3 linked regions of the Homo sapiens genome follow. The protein of the gene in region 3 purifies or fractionates together with the protein of the main gene of each other region. This does not show direct contact. Each region holds a gene or a part of one and is shown on either strand. Other genes may lie near its edges.

Region 1 (2,700 bases), on a different chromosome or scaffold from region 3:
TTTGCAAGTGTACTAATTTAGACTAATTGGGGTAAGGGGAACACCTTAATGAACTTTGACTTATGTATAATTCAGATATCTTTGTACTTAAGGCTTACAAGTTTGAATTATGGAATACTATAAGGGTTTTTTGTTTATTTGTATGTTTTTATATGAAAGTACATAAATGACAGACTACCTCCAAGTAATCCTGCTTTAATTAATAGCAGTGATTTGTAATCAGTGTATCTTTTAAGATTCTCTACAGGTTTTAGAAAATATTAAAAATTCCCTGTAATTTACATTTGTGCATAATCTTGGAAATGGGTTGAAAAGCAAAGGTAAACTGCTTCATCCCATGTTGTATATTTGTGGACTGATTGACTACAAGTGATGTGATGTTATAAATTTGAAGTCTTTGAAACTTTATTAATGTAGAGAAAACATAACTAGCTTTTTAGGTTATTTCAAAGTTAGTAATAGAGCAAAGGAAATCAGAACTGGCCAGATATTCAGACTTGACTTAGAAAAACAGGAGTTTGTTGATTTTGTTTGGAGAAGGGCACAATAAAGGGGAGCCCACATAGCATTATAATGCCTAGTATCTTTAAACATGTAAAGAGCTATCATGAGGCAGAAGAATTAAGAAACTTTATATGTTTCTAAGGGGTCATGATTGGGACCATTGGCTCAAGATTGAAAATCGGTTTTTAATTATCCAAAGATGAAATGGGGCTGCTTCAGAAAAAGGTCTACCACTGGAGATAACGCTATGAAAAGTGAAAGAGATTACTTAATCATTTTGACAAAGGCAGTATTGACCAGACATTTCTATTTCAGAGTTGGATTTGTGCTTAGTTTTTTTTAGGTGTTGGGACCCTTGTAGTTGCTTTTTATTTTGCTTAGTCAACAAACACTAAAATGATAAAATTTGGTATGTATAAGTACTGGACGAAGGATGTTTTGACACTAAAAAGGACATAATTTAGGAAATTAAGAATTTAGACACCAAGTTTGGCTTAATAGAAAAAGTCACTATCTGAACTTCTTTCTTTTTCACCACAAATCACCGCAGACCAGTGTTTGGGAGCAGGTGTAGGAAATTGAATTATTGGATCTATGTTTAGGTAAGAAAACTAAAGGTACTTCAGAATTTAGGCTATGACATAACTGTCTTTCTGAAGTTTAAAGAAAGAAAGTGAACTATAGAAATCTATTCAGCTAATTAAAGTGAATGAAAAATATTACAGATTCCATAACTGCATGGCGCCTTACCTGCTATTAATACTGCCGCCTTACTGTCAGCCAGATGATTTTTTCCCACCACGGCCAGTCTTAAATTTGGCAATAAGAAAAAGCTAATCTTCCAAGTGTAAGTAGGTATGTGTTAGAATCTTGGTGAAAGATAAACACAAGACAGTCTTCTTGGCGCAGGTCCTAACAGTTGGTGAGATAATACATAAGATGGTTTCAGGATTATTGTAGAATTATTTAGGTTGAAAGAGACTGTAAGAGACTAATGAAGCATACCCAGAGAGGTTGCTACAGTGACTCCAGTCAGTTTTAGGACCCAGGACTCCTGAACTTCAATTTCAGTATTATTTTTCTGTACCAAACTCATTCAATAAATACTTGAGATTAGGGATAAGTTTGAAGTTAGAAGATTCCAGAGTACACTCAAATAGTATTTGGCACATAGCTTGTTGATCAAAAGTATTTACTAAGTGAGTGACAAAAGGCACTAGCAACTTTAAGGATTTTGCCTATTAGTATCATATGGCATGTAGCTATCAAGCCAGTTTCGTTTAGTTATTTTGTGTTGCCAAGCATATGATACGTGGTGTCACACTGAGCCTTTGGGATCCTTTCCCTGGATACATAACCCTAGTAGATAATGTTACTGCAAGATGTAATGACCAAATCCAACCTACTGCAAATGTTACTATGGAAATCTCAATGCAAAAGTAGCCTTTGTGATTTTTTTTTTAAACCGTCTCCATAACAGAACACTTAGAATTATTAGCCATTTGCTGCAAAGTATTTGTTTTAAAATGTCTGGCATATACACCACTAACATTTAAATGCCCAACATTCGGTCTATACGTGAAAAAACTAGAAGAAAAGCCCTGTTGGAGTTTTGATGTAGAGTGCAATAATACATCAATAAAGGTATTTTAAAATGACCTAATGTTTTAGTTGCCAACATGATTTTTGTATTTGTAAAGAGGTATGTTGGGTTTTGGCATTTATATTTTACCGTATGAAAGACATATTCATGTAAAAGGTAATGTGAAGCTTAGCATCTCTTGTCAACCTGTCCCCTGTTTCCAAGTAGTCTCCTTGGATATTTGTAGCATCTGGATTCCTAATAATCCAGATAATTAGGATTATGGCATTTATGTACAGACATGGGTAATTCTCCAAAGCAGATCTTCCCACACTAATTTTTCAAGTACTTGTCACCTAAATCATTAATAAAATGTGCCAATTCCAAATAATAGCAAATGTAGGAATTGAATCAGCATCCCAGAGTACTAGTCCTGGGCCATATCCTCATTAGGCAAAGGAAATTTGAAGAAGTTATTTTAGGACTTTACCTAAGGTGAAGTCTAGAATTTTACATATGTAGGTATGTTTTTGTTAGTCTTATATTTGCCTAAAAGTTATACGTTTTATTATTTCATAGGCGTAAATATGTTTTTATTAAAATCTTAGATTAGA
Region 2 (3,660 bases), on a different chromosome or scaffold from region 3:
AAGCATGTGGTTTTGGTAGAAATGAAGTTACAAATTAGATTCAGCGGTCTCAACAGAGGCATAACGTGCCTTTTTCTAAATAAGATGAAAATATTTGTTGAAAGTGTCAGAATTGGGGAGTAAGTATTAATAGTTTTACTGAACCAAGCCCTTTAGAGATTAATTGGCAGTATTAAAACTTTAGAAAATCAGTTTTTAAGGGGGTAGTATATCTGATTCTCTTAGGATGTAGAATTTAGATGTGTATTTAAAAATTTTTTTGATGAATCCGTGGTCACTGCTTAAATTTCTGAGTCCTTATGCTGCAGCTTTTGCTCGAAGTTACAATTTTAAACATGTGGTTTCTGGAACTTTTTTTTCCTTGGCAAAAAGATTTTTAAAAAGGTACACTTTAAAATTCAAATAATGAGATTTTCTGACTACATAGTTCTTGAAATTTGACTATCATATTTGAGTTTATTGGGTTCTGGTTAATGTATCGTACTGGTGTATTTTAATAACTAATGTATATTTTAAATAATTATTTAAAACATTGCAGATTTAAATGTACTCATATTTTCTACTGTCCACTGGTTGATGCCTGTTAAAAATTTAATTTTGTGGAATCTTGGTCAGCCACTTGACTATGATGTTTAAACAGTAGCTGATAATTAAAGCCAAAACTCAAATCAGGTTATTTTATTTTCATCTTAACAGTTACCGACACCGTAGAACAGAGCAAGAGGAGGATGAAGAGCTATTAACAGAAAGCTCCAAAGCAACCAATGTTTGCACTCGATTTGAAGACTCTCCATCGTGTATGTTAAACACACTTGATTTTTTTAAAAAATTGCCCTTTGAGATCTCCTTTGGTTAATGTTTTGGATTTGTGTTGGCTACTATTTGTGAAGCAAATTTTTAGTAGTCTTAGATGTTTATTGGTTATGAAATAAACTTCAGATTTTGATGGAGATGAGAGCATATTACAGGATAGTAGTGCTGTATTTCAAAGTTATATAAAATGTCATTGTGTTTGTTATTGCCCTGAAGTATATGTAAATCTAAGGATCGTTTTGCTTTATATTTGTCCCACATAAGAAAACTAATTTATTTTAAAAAAGGTACTTCATGAACACATTTGCTTACTTCTGATGTTTTTATATTAATTTAATTTTTTGTGAAATGTATTTGTTTATTGGTTAGCTTTTTATCCTCAAGTGTTTTTCAAAAGGAGATGGAGGGCTACACTGTGTACATATTAAAAAAGAAAAATCAGGTGACCGTTATGTATATTTGGTAATTATTCTGGGGAGCAAAATAAGTAGTATACCCTGAAAGAGAGTGCATTGGAATGTATAAGATATATTGGACAAGTAACTTAGGAATTTCCTATTTCTTTTTTTTTTTTTTTTACTAGAAAGAAAATAAAATCCCCAGATAACCTGTATCTGGTCTTTATGAAAGCTGAAAATACTTGGTTAGGAACACTTGGTTTTTCATTAAAAAGACGAGAGGCCAAAGAGTCTCTCAGACCAGTATATGGGTAACGTAAGAACTGAGTTGTTGGAGTGGGTACTCTGATGCCCGCAGTCATGTTTCCCGCACTTGATTATCTTCCATGTCCAGCTTTTCCACTTCAGACCATGGCAGCTACCTCTAGTATTTTGGAACTTGCAGAGTTCCTATTCAAGAATCCGTTAGTAATGAAAATAAAGTCAGTAGATATGTGTAGGCTTAGATGAAGAGATTGCCTTGTATTTCTTGTCTTAAAATGCCTATTGTGCTTTTCTTTTGTTCTTAGATGTAAAATGGGGTAAACTGAGAGATTATCAGGTCCGAGGATTAAACTGGCTCATTTCTTTGTATGAGAATGGCATCAATGGTATCCTTGCAGATGAAATGGTATGTGTTGGTAGTTTTTTTTGAAGGGTATGTTTTGTATTGAAAATATCTTATACGTTGATAAAAGTTTCTTACAGTCTACAACTGTTAGCAAATGGATCCTCTCAGAAACTAGTATAAGCAGCTTGCCTTAGTTGCATAAGTGTGATCTGTATTTTAATTGTGAGAAATTTCCATCGCTGAAAATATGATAAATTTAAAAAGAATACATTTGAGAAACATGTTTTTGGATGACTTTTATAGTACAATGATTTATTTGCTTCCAGTTTTGTAAAACAAAAGTGAGGTCATTAATTGTTTATAATTGATAAATGTTTTTTCCAGGTGGTAGCTTGTACAATTCTTAGAAAACATTTATCTTTTGTTAACTACTAGTTATGTAATGAATGTTTAAAAAAGTTTCCTTATTGCTATAATGCTAAAACGTTTAATTGGTTGGAGAAAGTATGAAGTCAAAAGAAATGTGTTTCAATGCTAGCTCTGCTAGATGACTTTGGGAATGTCACTTAAACGGGGCCTTATGCGGGTGATAATAATACCTCCTTTAGAGACTTGTGAAAATTATATGACATAACACTTACAAACTTTGATATATGTTAAGTTTTTGCCATTTATTAACTGTTATAAATATGTAGCATTTCTTTTGAACATTTCTATATGTTGGGAGGTATAATTGTGAAATAATATTTTCATTTTTCACTGCTTCATGGTTATTTTGAAATCTTTCAGGGCCTAGGAAAGACTCTTCAAACAATTTCTCTTCTTGGGTACATGAAACATTATAGAAACATTCCTGGGCCTCATATGGTTTTGGTTCCTAAGTCTACATTACACAACTGGATGAGTGAATTCAAGAGATGGGTACCAACACTTAGATCTGTTTGTTTGATAGGAGATAAAGAACAAAGAGTAAGTTTCTAGTATTTCATTACATTTTTGAGGCTAAAATAATTTGAATTCAGGCTTGGGTATGGGTATAGCTGGAAGAAGGATAAATGAGACGGGATCTTCGCAAATATTAGTATTTACAAATGTAGCATTGTCTTGGTGGATAAAAAACAGCACTTTGGGAGGCCGAGGCGGGTGGATCATGAGGTCAGGAGATCGAGACCATCCTGGCTAACACAGTGAAACCCCGTTTCTACTAAAAACTCAAAAAATTAGCTGGGTGTGGTGGCACGCATGGCCTGTAGTCCCAGCTACTTGGTAGGCTGAGGCAGGAGAATCGCTGGAATCTGGGAGGTGGAGGTTGCAGTGAGCCGAGATGGCGCCACTGCACTCCAGCCTGGGCAACAAAGCAAGACCATCTTAAAAAAAAAAAATCATACTGGGAAGAAGACATTAGAAATGGTAGAAAGCTGTAAGACTGTAGTTTGTTTCTCTCCCTTTTGGGAGTGGTTGTATAAAATCATTGGTTGTGCTCTCATTAGAAGTTATTTTCTTGTTTTTAAAAGATATTTTGAAATGTGAGTTGGTTGGAAATTTAAGGAGCCACATTTTTAGATGAATGTGTGTAGTGGTAATAGTCACAGAATTAGAGTTTTTAAAGACGGGTTGAGTCATATATAGTAATTTGGTGATTTATTATGATATTTAACAAAATAAGTTAAAATTTCGATCAGTTGACAACATCCTTGTGGGAAGAAGAGATGGAAATAATGACATTAGTATATAAAGCTCAGATTTGGAAATTTATTCAGACTCTACTGAATAGCTGTGTACTTGTTTTTTATTTCCTCTTCATTTACCTGTGAGTGATAAGTCTATATTTTTCTCTCC
Region 3 (3,660 bases):
AAGTTTTTTTTTATTTTGTTGTCCTTTTTTCCTTTATTTTGATATCACTTAGAAGTCTTTTCATTCTTCTCTACTTTATTGTCAGTCATTATTCCTGCTTCTTTGATCCCAGAATAGAAGGGCTTATGTCCTCTGCTGAAAGTTAACAATTCCAATGTGAAGTGTCAAGCCTTGTTTCTATATTCTTATCTTCAATTCTTAGAGCAGCTTTCTCCCTTTTCGAGGATATGTGTTAACCTGGCAGATTTAGTTTTCTTTCTTTGTGTGGTAATGGTCTGAATTTTTCAGCTTTGGAGAGAAATACACTACAGAATTCAAATCACTGGACGTTTGCCCAAACCTGTCTTTTAGTTTTTAATGCTTCTTTTCTTGCTGACCATTTATGTGATTTAATGCCTTAGATTCTGTACTCCCACAATTTCAGTTAGTTTTTGTAAACCTGTTCCTTGACTTGTTTTTTAAAAAAAGTAACTCCCTGGTACTGCCTAATTTAATTTTTCTCTCACTCATCAGTGTCCTTGACTTTGCATTCCTTTTTTCGGTCAACTCCCCCAGCTAGCTTGTCTCCTTGCTATTCTTGTATACCCTGCTTTACTCTTCCTACCGCCTACCTGCATAAACTCTACCTTCTTTCCTTCATGCAGATTCCTATGCCAGTTTCTCAGTTACTTCTCTGACCTCTTGCCTCCACCTTACTTTTTGGTAATTTGTTTTTATGACTCTCCTAAAATTTGTGTAAAAGAAATGCCAGAGGTACATTTTAAGCTTTTAACGGCTTGTGGTGGTGGTGAGTAAAAGAGTTGGGCTGCAGCTGGGTTTTTCTTACCAAGATCCTGTTGCCCTCTTAAAGAAACAGGCAGTGATTTTTAGAAAGATTGGCATCGGAACCACTTTGTTTGTCTATATTCTGTATTTTAAACAATTTTAAAACCAAGTTTGTTATGTTTTGGTGAGGAAAAAATTAAGAAAAAAGATTGGAATGTTGATCCCTTAAATATTTGGTTTGCTCATTAACATACTCAATCTTTTTCCTCCAGATGTAACTCAGGCTTTCCCTCACTTTGGAACTCCTAGATTTGTGAATATTGGATATTTTGAGAAGCAGGGGTTCTTTCCTTGATATTGACTAAGGAGTCTATTTACCTTCAGGATGACATCTGAACTGGAGAGCAGCCTAACGTCTATGGACTGGTTACCACAGCTCACCATGAGAGCAGCCATCCAAAAATCTGATGCTACACAAAATGCACATGGAACAGGAATTTCTAAGAAGAATGCACTCCTTGACCCAAATACAACTCTGGACCAGGAAGAAGTCCAACAGCACAAAGATGGGAAACCTCCATACAGTTATGCCAGCCTCATTACATTTGCAATTAATAGCTCACCCAAAAAGAAAATGACTTTAAGTGAAATTTATCAGTGGATTTGTGATAACTTCCCATATTATAGAGAGGCTGGCAGTGGTTGGAAGGTAAGGATTTTATTTAAATTATTACTTTTATGAAGTAAGCAATGATGTTGATTTCTACTGAAAATAAAGCTTTGTGAATGCTCATGTAATTGAATATGAAATTTTGATCTCTAGTGATTTTTAGGATGTCAAAAAGTTTTTAGCTTAGGTGAATAACTTTATTTTTGGTAGATTATTAGTGTGTTGAAGCTTGATTATGTTATAGGACTGATGTAGCATAAAGTAAGAGCGGGGATAATGTAGCGTTCACTGGAAACCATACCTGCAGTTCAGGTGAGTTGACAGTGAGCCTAAAGTGAAAAACAACGTAGTATTGCAACTAGTACTAACTGTCTTTATCAGTCAAGATTTTTTTTTTTTTTTTTTTTTTTGAGATGGAGTCTCGCTCTGACGCCTAGGCTGGAGTGCAGTGGCGCGATCTTGGCTCACTGCAAGCTTCGCCTTCTGGGTTCACGCCATTCTCCTGCCTCAGCCTCCTGAGTAGCTGGGACTATAGACGCCTGCCACCATGCCCAGCAGATTTTTTTTTTTTTTTTTTTTTTTTTTTTTTTGAGACGGAGTCTCGCTCTGTCGCCCAGGCTGGAGTGCAGTGGCGGGATCTCGGCTCACTGCAAGCTCCGCCTCCCGGGTTCACGCCATTCTCCCGCCTCAGCCTCCCAAGTAGCTGGGACTACAGGCGCCCGCCACTACGCCCGGCTAATTTTTTGTATTTTTAGTAGAGACGGGGTTTCACCGTTTTAGCCGGGATGGTCTCGATCTCCTGACCTCGTGATCCGCCCGCCTCGGCCTCCCAAAGTGCTGGGATTACAGGCGTGAGCCACCGCGCCCGGCCAGATTTTTTGTATTTTTAGTAGAGATGGGATTTCACCGTGTTAGCCAGGGTGGTCTCGATCTCCTGACCTTGTGATCCGCCCGCCTCGGCCTCCCAAAGTGCTGGGATTACAGGCGTGAGCCACCGTGCCTGGCCAAGATTTTTTTTTTTTTTAATTAGAGACAAGGTCTTGCTCTGTTACCCAAGGTCGAGTGCCTGAGCACGCCACCATGGCCAGCTAATTTTTAAATTTCCTGTAGAGATGGGGCCTTGCTCTGTTGCCCATGCTGGTCTCGAACTCCTGGCTTCAAGTGATCCTCCTGCTTCGGCCTGCCAAAGTTTTGGGGTTACAGGTGTGAGACACTGTGCCTGGCCAAGACTTTTAAAAAATATTTATCTTGAAAGAATTTTAGATTATTGCAAGAGTTGCAAAAGCAATACAGAAGGTTCCCATGTATATTTCATCAGCTTCTTCTAATGTTAACATCTTACATAACCATAGTACAATTATCAAAACTAAGAAATTGACTGAGCATGGTGGCTCACGCCTGTAATCTCAGCGCGTTGAGAGGTGAAGGCAAGAGGATTGCTTTAGGACAAGAGTTTGAGACCAGCCTGGGCAATATATGTTGCTCATGATTAGATGTTTTCTTGTAATTAGAATGAGGTAATACATTTTTGGGAAGAATAATACCGATATGGCCTTTTGTGCATAACATATCAGAGGATAGATAATATAAGTATGTCTTAATGGGAATGTTAACTGTGATTCTTCGGTTAAGGGGATGTCTGCCAGGTTTCTTCATTGTAAAGTTTACTATTTATCACTTTGTAAATAATAATATGTTTTGGGGGGATGCTTTGAGCATATGCAAATACAGTAAGTCCTCAACTTTGATAGGTTCTTGGAAACTGACTTTAAGCAAAACAACATAAAATGAGACCAATTTTTTTTCCTCATCAACATTATAACGAAATGATGTTATTTGAAGACGTGCTATACTTTTGTTTGACTTAGTGTTGCGGTTTCCAAGAACCCCATTAGTAGTGCTAAATGAAGACTTACTGTACTTTATTTCTTAAACTTTTATCCATTAATTTTAGCATTCATTGGTAGGTTATAACGGTAGCAATTATTACTCTCTCCCCTCTCTTCCCCTTTCCCCCGCCCCCTTTTTTTTAAGACAGAGTCTTGCTTTGTTGTCCAGGCTGGAGTGCAGGGGCACCATGTCGGCTCACTGTAACCTCCGTCTCCTGGGTTCAAGCAATTCTCCCGCCTCAGCCTCTCGAGTAGCTGGGATTACAGGCGCCCACCACTGTGCCTGGCTAATTTTTATATTTTTAGTAGAGACAGGGTTTCACCATGTTGGCCAGG

What was found.
Region 1: the proteins of FOXJ3 (region 3) and ZBTB10 purify together in Homo sapiens (affinity purification with mass spectrometry; one large-scale study listed by BioGRID and IntAct). This does not show direct contact.
Region 2: the proteins of FOXJ3 (region 3) and SMARCA5 purify together in Homo sapiens (affinity purification with mass spectrometry; one large-scale study listed by BioGRID and IntAct). This does not show direct contact.

Annotation. Positions count from the first base shown.
Region 1 is NC_000008.11:80,524,104-80,526,803, forward strand, and holds the end of ZBTB10 (zinc finger and BTB domain-containing protein 10), read left to right. Parts: 3' UTR 1-2,162; downstream 2,163-2,700. UniProt on the Homo sapiens protein: May be involved in transcriptional regulation.
Region 2 is NC_000004.12:143,523,671-143,527,330, forward strand, and holds part of SMARCA5 (SWI/SNF-related matrix-associated actin-dependent regulator of chromatin subfamily A member 5), read left to right. Parts: intron 1-696; coding exon 697-797; intron 798-1,780; coding exon 1,781-1,881; intron 1,882-2,610; coding exon 2,611-2,790; intron 2,791-3,660. UniProt on the Homo sapiens protein: ATPase that possesses intrinsic ATP-dependent nucleosome-remodeling activity.
Region 3 is NC_000001.11:42,276,162-42,279,821, reverse strand, and holds part of FOXJ3 (forkhead box protein J3), read left to right. Parts: intron 1-1,037; exon of another isoform or gene 1,038-1,149; coding exon 1,150-1,474; intron 1,475-3,660.